Linked DNA regions of Homo sapiens: regions 1 and 2 are each reported to be linked to region 3. Evidence: microRNA targets listed by miRTarBase, many of them from high-throughput screens and not tested one by one. Region 3 holds a microRNA gene; each other region holds the end of a gene's coding sequence.

Evidence for each region. The annotated mature microRNA hsa-miR-608 reads AGGGGUGGUGUUGGGACAGCUCCGU and lies in region 3 at 1,805-1,829, opposite strand. An mRNA with a match to its seed (bases 2 to 7 or 8) in the 3' UTR can be bound and repressed. Matches are read on the target gene's strand: a 7mer-m8 pairs with bases 2 to 8, a 7mer-A1 pairs with bases 2 to 7 and ends in A, and an 8mer does both.
Region 1: miRTarBase lists CYP11A1 as a target of hsa-miR-608. Seed matches in the 3' UTR shown: 8mer at 2,807-2,814.
Region 2: the mRNA of MLX is a reported target of hsa-miR-608. Seed matches in the 3' UTR shown: 7mer-A1 at 2,442-2,448 and 7mer-A1 at 2,124-2,130.

The regions. Positions count from the first base shown.
Region 1 is chr15:74,334,982-74,338,230 of GRCh38, forward strand. CYP11A1 (cytochrome P450 family 11 subfamily A member 1) reads right to left here. Exons shown (of 9, transcript NM_000781.3): 9 at 2,781-3,122. The coding sequence ends at 2,991. It overlaps CCDC33 (coiled-coil domain containing 33), which reads left to right. Exons shown (of 19, transcript NM_025055.5): 18 at 1-107; 19 at 944-1,160. The coding sequence ends at 1,072. Among named protein-coding and RNA genes, the nearest start is that of CCDC33-AS1, 17 kb to the left of the region's middle.
Region 2 is chr17:42,571,084-42,574,332 of GRCh38, reverse strand. It overlaps MLX (MAX dimerization protein MLX), which reads right to left. Exons shown (of 8, transcript NM_198204.2): 8 at 1,130-2,786. The coding sequence ends at 2,730. PSMC3IP (PSMC3 interacting protein) reads left to right here. Exons shown (of 8, transcript NM_016556.4): 4 at 123-234; 5 at 710-855; 6 at 969-1,022; 7 at 1,167-1,226; 8 at 1,309-2,023. The coding sequence ends at 1,365. Among named protein-coding and RNA genes, the nearest start is that of PSMC3IP, 5.0 kb to the left of the region's middle.
Region 3 is chr10:100,973,580-100,976,828 of GRCh38, reverse strand. MIR608 (microRNA 608) reads right to left here and starts at 1,844; the gene lies at 1,745-1,844. SEMA4G (semaphorin 4G) reads right to left here. Exons shown (of 15, transcript NM_017893.4): 4 at 3,220-3,249.

The DNA.
Region 1 (3,249 bases), not on the chromosome of region 3:
ACTCAGCTCGACGCTGGGGACGAGAGAAGCAGGATCTGGCCACACGGCTGCAGGAGCAAGAAAAAGGTTTCAGGCACCCCTCGAACTCCATCATCATAGAACAGCCTGTGAGTGACCCCCCTGGAGTAGCTCCCAGGGGTTCAGGTGGTGGAGCAGGAAGCCACCGCACCCCCAAAGTCACTGGGCCCTGAGAAAAGCCATTGTGGAGCCAACTCCAGGGCTGGGGGTCAGGAGTCCTAGGCTCCCATTCCTGCTCCATTACCAACCGAAGGCTCGGTCTTAATTCCCCCACCTGTCTAAGGGGAACAGAAAACCCCTGCCAAAACTACCCTTTCCCCCATGGGGTGCTGTGAAACTCAAGGAGATGACTGTGGATGAGGGGTCCATGCAGGCATCTCCAGGATGCCCTGACACTGTGCTTTAGGACTGGCTGCGCTCATGGGCAGAGTAGCTTGTGGCCCTACCCCCCTGAATCCATAGAGCCTAAGATTCTCAAATTAGCACACCCTTCTCAGATGGCCACGATGTAGGCTCCACTTTGCCAACTTCCCGAGAACAAACAGGCCTGCTCACAACTGCCCCTCAAGTTCAACCCCGGGACCGCCCAGCCCCGCAAAGCAAAGACCCTGACTTCTCCTGCTCTTGAGCCAGCTGTGCTTTGCCCGTGGCCAGAAGCTCAGCAGCGGCTCCTGGGAAAGGCCTGGAAAGGATGAGGGAACAGGCAAGGAACAAAGGCAACCTTTGCACACTCACCTGAGCCCTGGGGACCCTTGGAGAAATTAGGTGTCACCTGCTGTGGCAAAATGGGTTTAGAAATCTTTGCCAGGTCATGGCCCACTGGATTCTGGATACTCTGAGGCCTGGTTTGTCAGGCAATATGCCCTTGAGCAGGTCACCCCCTGGGAATGGGGGGTACTCACGCACCCCGCTTTGCACACCACAGAGTGCCCTCACCCACTCCATGGACCTCAAGCAGCCCTCAGAGCTGGAGCCCCTGCTGCCCAGCTCAGACTCTAAGCTCAACAAGCCCTTGAGCCCCCAGAAGGAGACCGCTAACTCTCAGCAGACCTGAGCCCCAGAGCAGGCCTCCTTCCCTGTGTGCTGGGGAGTCTCATCACCGCCCCCTAAAAATGACGTTATTAAATGTTGTAGCTCTGTGAGCATTTTCCTCTTTCCTGGAGCAGGGCAGCCTGGGGGCCCTGCTTCCTCCTCCTAGACCTCACTCTGGGCCTGGGCCTGGGTCTTCTGCTGCAGCCTTACAGCCTCCCGCCTGCCCCAGGAGCCAGCATCTTTGGAAAGCCAAGGGCCACAGTGGACCCAGGAGGGTGGAGAGAAGAGGCCTTCCAAAGCAGGGGCCAGGGAGACGGGCCCCTTCCAGACCCGGAGAAGAAGCAAGGCCACCAGAGACCAGCTCTGTTGGGAAATACGAGGGAGGCTTGTCCTTTTCATCTGCCCCAAAACATCTATCATGTCTGATATTCCTTCTTTCAAGTTTGGTTTGTCTGTCTCTTGGAAAGGGAAAGACTTGGAGGCTTGAAGCCTTCCTGTGGCAGTCACGTATCATTGTGAAATACTCCATTAAGCCACTAGGCTGAGCTGGCAATGATGTGTCCAAATGTAGCCGGGGCAGGAGAGCAGATTGGGCCAGGGGAAAGGAGGCACCTACAGGGAGTCAGGAGGCCCAGGTTCTGGGGGCAAACAGGCTGTGTGACCTCAAGGGACCCAAGCAACCTCTCTGGACTTCAGTTTCCCCATCTATTCCATGTAGAGCTTGACCTCATTGGCTGTAAGCCTCTTTCCAGCTATAACATTTCTGAGTCAAAGCTGACTCAGGACCAGAGAAGAAAAAGGACACAGGAAGGAAAGACAAAGACAACAGGGAAGAGGATTTTGTGGTGGGGAAAGCAGAAGGGCTCCAAGAGTGGATCCAGATCCCACAGCTTCGGGCAGGAGAGGCCAGGCCAGCTGGACCACTGGCCTCAGCTGGACTAGCTCCCCCACCTGCCTGCAGGACTTAGACTTGGATAGCCGAGGGCCAAGAGGAATCAGGTCAGGAGTTGGGAGACCCCAAGGGATTAGGGGGCGGAAGTCGAGACCAGTGTCATTCAGTCCAAATGACAAACCAGCGGCTCTGCTGCAGAATAGTATCCCCACCTCCCACCCTTGGACAAGGGGGCGCAAGCCCCCAGAGCAAGAACACGAGGCCTGGAGCAAGCCCAGAGGAGGCCCGGGAATGGTAAAGGAAGCAGGCTGGCCTCTCATCCCCAGTCAGCCACCTCACACCAGCCCTTCAGTAGCAGGGGTTCTCACCCACAGTTCTCGGCCTTTGCCATGCCCAGGACTCTGGCTGGGCCTTGGCAGGAAGTCCTCATGCCCCACAGGGAACTCCCACCCAGAGTTCACCCAAGCAGAGCCCTGTGCGAGCCTTACCCCTGTGGGGCAGGTCCACTCAGAAAGGCAGTACTGGCCCACACTTCTTGGGGCCACCCACAGAACTCCCCAGTTCTCCTTTGTCCTTCTGCCTGATGCTTCTGTAGCTCCTGGCACAGTAGCAGTTGCCTCCCCTCCTCTGCCCCACTCTGCCTCACCCCTTGCCCCAGGGAGCCTGGAGTTGATTCTGCTGGCTCCTGAACTGCCATGGGTGAGGGGGTCCCAGCAGAGGTGGCTTCAAGTGTGGCTACCTGGGGTCTCCTGAGCATGCCCAGATCCTGCTTTAACACAGGAAGCATCTCCACGGGAGTGATGAACACCTAATGAGTCTGATGGAACGCAAGACACCACATGGTTCAGCTGTTTATTGTCTCCATGGGGTGGGTGAAGAGGAGTGGCCCAGCTGAGCTGAGGAAGGTGACCACTGAGAACCCATTCAACCTGCTGAGCAGGCTGGGCAGAAAGGAGCAGGACTTGGGACAGACGACTGAAGATGCAGAGACCCCATGGGCCCCACCCCTGGGCCTTCCTCCCATGTGGCTGCAGGCCATCCTCTCTGATCACTGCTGGGTTGCTTCCTGGTTAAAGGGCCAGAAGGTGAAGGAGATGGGCTTTTCAGGCATCAGAATGAGGTTGAATGTGGTGCCCACATCGCTGAGGTGTTGGATTTCAACTCTGAAGTTCTCCAGCATCTGAGAAAGGCAGATGGTAGGTTTAGGGGAGGGCAGGGGAGGATCTGTCTCCCTAGCCAGGCCAATTCACCCATAGGCAGTGCCTGTGGAGTGTGATTTGAGGAGTTCCAAGGAGTTCACCACCAGC
Region 2 (3,249 bases), not on the chromosome of region 3:
CCTCTGGAGACTTTGGGGTGTGGCTGGTTCCTGAGCATATCCAAATGGTGCCTTCCCAGGTGTGTGTTCCCATCTTTGTGCCTCACAACAGTTCACTTGTATTTTCCCTCTTTGTCTGGCAGGACCAGTTTGACATGGTGAGTGATGCTGACCTTCAAGTCCTAGATGGCAAAATCGTGGCCCTCACTGCTAAGGTGCAGAGCTTGCAGCAGAGCTGCCGCTACATGGAGGCTGGTAGGACTGGGTAGCCCCTCCAAAGTGCCCATAGGCTTAGGTTCATTCTAGAGGTCAGGAATTACTAAATGAATGGTTCAATGACTGCAGCATCTTGTTGCAGCTAAGACCCCTTTGCTGGGCTCCCTTAGGCATAAAAAGAAATGTAGGATAACTAACGGCTTTTGTGTACCAACAAATGGACAAGATACGCATTTGTTCTCCCTGCCACGATTATCAGTACACTGTCCCCACGTTTCCCTTTATTCCTGCTTCTTTAACTGGCTACGCCTAAGTAAGTGTTCAACCTCACACCCACGCCACTTGTAGATGGAGGAGGAAAGAAAATTAGAAGAATAAATAATCCTGTATGGCTTAGTTTCCATGTGAGATGATAGATCCAGAGCAAGGTGGAACACCTCAGGGAGCACCCACTGGGAAAGACAGAACTCCTTCCTCAGGGGTAGCAAGTGACCCCAGGCGGATGTGGTTTCAGAGCTCAAGGAATTATCTAGTGCCCTGACCACACCAGAGATGCAGAAAGAAATCCAGGAGTTAAAGAAGGAATGCGCTGGCTACAGAGAGAGATTGAAGAACATTAAAGCAGCTACCAATCATGTGACTCCAGAAGAGAAAGAGCAGGTGAGCTGGAAGGCTGTAGGACCGCTGTGCAGGTCCAGAGTGAACATCAGGGCTGAGCCCCAGAGGGCTGCTGTGGTTCTGAGGAGTTAGAGGAACTTGCTTTTTCCTTCTAGGTGTACAGAGAGAGGCAGAAGTACTGTAAGGAGTGGAGGAAGAGGAAGAGGATGGTAAGTGTGTGGGAGCTCCGAGACAGGCCCTGGAGGTGCCTTTGAAAATGGCAGGCACCAGATCAGCCGCTACACAATATCATAAACTGACAGGCAGTGCCCAGTGCTGCCCATCTGAAAACGGGTGGTTTTATTTCTTGTCAGGCTACAGAGCTGTCTGATGCAATACTTGAAGGATACCCCAAGAGCAAGAAGCAGTTCTTTGTAAGTGGAGCTCTCTTCCTTCTTTGCTTCCCTGTGGTCTTATCCTGGTGACATCTCATTCACTTGTCTCCCTGTCTCACAGGAGGAAGTTGGGATAGAGACGGATGAAGATTACAACGTCACACTCCCAGACCCCTGAGGGGCCCACGGTCAGGACTGGTGGGGACTGCAGGATGTCAGAAGAGTGAGATGTCTTGCACTGGCTACCTTGTTTTTGGTTGGCTTTTGTTGTTGTTCCTGCTACTTTCACCTTTAAGCAGAGCAGTCAGGAGACAAGCATAAACCAGAGCACTGGGTAGAGAGGATGAGGGCTGGTGGCTGGGGGTAGACCCAGCCCATTTCATTGTCTAAATTGCAGTAGCTTGAGGTTAACATTTAGACTTGGAACAATGCTAAAGGAAAGCATTTGGCAATATTTATTATAATTTAATTTTATATAAAAATATTTAATTTCCTCTGGATAGTCAAACCTGCCAGATATCAAACCTGAGGAAGGCAGAAGTGAATTTGGAGAACTAGGGTAGAGAGAGGTTGCTATAAAACGAGCATTTGGAGGGCCCACGGCTTCACTCAGGACCTGCTGGGCTTGTGTACCCCAGGAGCCCTTTTAAGTATCTTTTGTACGCTTTTCACCCCACCCCCAAGTCCTGGGAGAAATGCAGGCAACACTGAGACATGGGAGAGGCCAAGATATGCTTGACAGAAAGGGTGATTTTGAGGCTCAGTTAATATTTCAAAATTGTAACCGTAGCAAAACTGCATTGGTATTTAGAAAAATAAAAAATTTCCAATATGTAGTGCTGTGTTATACCTGCCTCTGCCATGCAGCATCATAGCCTGTGGGAACCGGGAGGGCTTCCCTTACCACCCAGAGCAGAGGAGGAAGGTGATGGAATATGGGGTGAGGGGAGGAACCTGGTGGCCCCTCCCTGAGATGGCCAGAAAGCCCTTGGCCTCACCTGGGACTGACCAGGCAGCCCTAGTCTAGGCACAAGGTGCCCTTTCACCCTTCATGGCTGTGGGAATATTTCCTCTTACTCTTTTTCTCCCATACAGCTACTGCCAAAATGCCCAAACTTGGGCCAAATGTTGCCCAAACTTGGGCCAAAAATGTTGCCCAAGAGACCAAAACAGAGGAAAACAGTTTCCAAATCTATGTAGATCATGAGCAGAAATCTGAGGCTTGAATAAAGGGCTGAGAGGGCAGGAGCTCTTTGGGGTGTCCAGAGCAGACGCCCATCCCAAGGACTTCCATGGAGTGGGGGGAAGGCTGGGTAGGTTTGAGTTTTATCGTCAATATAATAAATTAATCAGAAGCTTTCACAAAACAAACACCGCGGCTCCGCTGAAGATAAAATGGGGCTGGGAAAAACCAAACACCAAGTAGAAACCAGCTGACCAGTGTGAGGTGTTGTAGTCCAGTCTCCCGGGCCCAGCAGTTCAGTGGCCACGTAGAGATTCAAGGGCCTCTTGTTGGCTGTTCTCCAGGTTTCCAAGAACCGGTCAGTAAAGCTGGTTTTTCAATTGGTGCAGGACGCCAATCACAATCTCCCGCAGGGTCTGGCGAGGGCAGCAGAGGAAGAAATAGACAATGCCCAAGTCAACGCAGAGTAGTTTCCAAGATGCCTGCCTAGATCAGCCATGTACTTTAGAAAAGTGCTTTAAAAATAGCCCCCCGGGGGCCAGGTGTGGTGGCTCACGCCTATAATCCCAGCACTTCGGGAGGCCAAGGCGGGTGGATCACCTGAATTTCAAGACCAGCCTGGCCAACATAGTGAAACCCCGTCTCTACTAAAAATACAAAAATTAGGTGTGGTGGCACATGCCTGTAATCCCAGCTACACAGGAGGCTGAGGTATGAGAATCGCCTGAACCCAGGAGGTGGAAGTTGCAGTGAGCTGACATCACACCACTGCACTCCAGCCTTGGTGACAGAGTGAGACTCCGTCTCAAAAAAAAAAAAAAAAAGCCCCCAGGAAGTACTGATGTCTGCAGTTTAATTTGAGGTGCTCCTGAAGCAAGA
Region 3 (3,249 bases):
ACATGTACATAGTATAAAACTTAGAAAGTACAAAGGGGTATGTTATAAACAGGGAGTCTCCCATTTATCCCTGTCTCCCAGGTTGCCTGCCAAGAAGACTGCTGTTACTATTGTCTGAAGTTTCCTTCCAGAGATATTTTACCAAACAACACACTTTTGCTACTCTCCAACCACTTTCCAAGGGATATTCTAAAAATGTAAACCTAGCCAGGTGTGGTGGCTCACACCTGTAATCCCAGCACTTTGGGAGGCTGAGGTGGGAGGATCACTGGAGCCCAGGAGTCCAAGACCAGCCTGGACAATATAGCAAGACCTCATCTCTATGTGGTGGCATGCACCTGTAGTCCTAGCTACTTGGGAGGCTTAGGCAAGAGAATTGTTTGAGCCCAGGAGGTCGAGGCTGCAGTGAACCACTGCACTCCAGCCTGGGCAACAGAGTGAGACCATGTCTGAAAAAAAGTCAAGTGGATCACACCACTGTATCGGCTCATCAGTGACCTGAATATAGAGTCCCACATGCTCCTAGCCCTGTGTGATGGGACTCTGCCCATTCCTCTGGTCTCACTCACCCTACTCCAGCCACACTGGTCTTCTCTGCCTGTCAAATGCCCTCAGCTGCCAGCCTCTTGACTCCTTTGCCACGTTAATGATTCCTCCTCTTGCCTGTTACCCAGGGTTTAAATCCATACAGGCCTCTTTGTGTCTCCTCCTGCTCCCTCACCTGGTACAAGCCACTACCATCTGTCCCCCGTCTCCATAAGCCTGCTCAGGCCCCTTCCTCTGACCCAAATGATGCCCCCAGCCTCCTCACTGCTTTTCCTGCCTCCAGACTCACCCTATTTTCATCCATCCAGTGCCTGGGGCCAGATAAATATTCCTAAAGTGATGTTTCCCCAAGATGTTTATTTATTTTTTTAATTTTATTTTTTTTGAGACGGAGTCTTGCTCTGCCGCTAGGTTGGAGTGCAGTGCATGATCTCAGCTCACTGCAACCTCCGCCTCCCGGGTTCAAGAGATTCTCCTGCCTCAGCCTCCCGAGTAGCTGGGACTACTACTCTCAACACCATGGTGATGTGACTGGGACTACTACTCGCATGGATGTGCATCACCATGCCGGGCTAATTTTTGTATTTTTAGTAGACACAGGGTTTCACCATGTTGGCCAGGCTGGTCTCGATCTCTTGACCTCATGATCCACCCGCCTCGGCCTCCCAAGGTGCTGGGATTACAGGCCTGAGCCACCGTGCCCAGCGGATGTTTACATTTTTTAAAGGGGGGTAGGGAGGAATTCTCTGGTCAAATAACTTTGGAAACCACAGGTGAAACCTATCTTTACTGGGCTTACTTCCTAGAGCCTGAAGGATGTTGCTGTGCATTGTGGGACTGGGCATGTAGTGTTTCCCAAACTCATTTGACATTTAAACCCCTCCTTTGAAAATTAATGTTCCTCAGAACATGCTTTGGGAACTGTTCTATAAAGCCTTGCTATCCAAAGTGTGGTCTGGGGACCAGCAGCATCAACTTCACTTGGGAGCTTGTTAGAATTGCAGACTCTTGGGCCCTTCCCCAGACCTACTAAGTTTAGCATCTGCATTTATAATATACCTGGGTGATACATTAAAGTTAGAGCCTCTAAAGTATCAAATTCTGAGGGTGTTCACTGTCACAGAATAAAACCCAAACTCCCAGCTGGGCATCTGTGGCCTTCCATGACCTGGTTCCATCTGCCTCCCCAGCCCCATTTTCTACCTGTGCTGCACCAAGAGGCAGCCTTTGATGGAAGCTCTTGGAGATGCCTTTTTAAACGGAGCTGTCCCAACACCACCCCTGGCCCACCTTGGCCCAGTGGATCTTGGGAATTTTTTTTTAATTATTTTTTATTAGAGATAGAGTCTCATTATATTGTCCAGGCTGGCCTCGAACTCCTGGGCTCAAGTGATCCTCCTGCCTTGGCCTCCCAAAGTGTTGAGATTACAAGTGTGACCCACCATGCCCAGCCCAGGGCCGTTTATTTTGTAAAAGCTCTCCAGATGGAGCCATTACCTAGCCAGACATGGGACCCCTGGAGACACCCTATTCTTTAGCTGGAAAGGGCTGATGCTTCATTAATGCCTGTCCATGGAATACTGGGTATTTGACCTATTCCTTGACCAAAGACTCATTTTTCTCATCTGCAAAATGCAGGATAATACTATTTCATAGGGTTATTTTAGAATTAACTGAGATAATAGCTAAATCATCACTTGCTGTAGATAGTTGCTGACTTAACAATGGTTCAATTTATTATGATGGTTTTATTGGTAAGTAACCCATCGTAAGTAAGCATCTGTAGAGGTTACTTACTGTTTTTTGTTGGTTTGTTTTTTTGAGACAGGGTTTTGCTCTGTCATCCAGGCTGGAATGTGTGGCTTAATTATAGCTCACGCAGCCTCAACCTCCCAGGCCCAAGTGATACTCCCACTCAGCTTCCCAAGTAGCTGGGACTACAGGTGCACGCCAGCATACTTGGCTAATTTTTGTATTTTTTTTGTAGACAGATCTCGCTGTGTTGCCAAGGCTGATCTTGAACTCCTGGACTCAAGTTGTCCTCCTACCCTCAGCCTCCCAAAGTGTTGGGATTACAGATGTGAGCCACCGCGTTCAGCCTACTTATTGCCATTTTGATTATTTGGGATCCCAGAGGAGATGAAGATGCCACTGCGGGACAAACTAGTAGGCCACCAGATGGTTGAATTAGAAGTACTGTGCCCAGATGCCGGGGGCAATGGCTTACATCTGTAATCCCAGCACTTTGGGAGGCTAAGGTAGGGGGACTGCTTGAGGCCAGGAGTTCAAGACCAGCCTGGGCAACATAGCAAGACCCTGTTTCTACAAAAAATAAAACACTTAGCTGGGCGTGGCATGTGCCCGTGGTCCTAGCTACTCAGGAGGCTGAAGTGGAAGGATCCCCTGAGCCCAGGAGTTTAAGGCCACAGGGAGCTATGATCATGTCACTGTACTCCAACCTGGATGACAGAGTGAGATCCGACCTCAAAAAAAGAAAAAAAAAAAAATGCTGTGCCCATGGCTTGCCACTCTGGCAATACTTACAATGTTTACTGTGGTTGCTGAGATTGACTGGCAGGTCTGTACCTACCCATCTGTGTCCCCAACAATCCTGGCATCCCTGATTGAGGAAGAAGGGGAGGAAAGGAGCTGGGGACAGGGCAGACCACATACCTGGTTGTTTTTCCCTTTTTGATGACATTT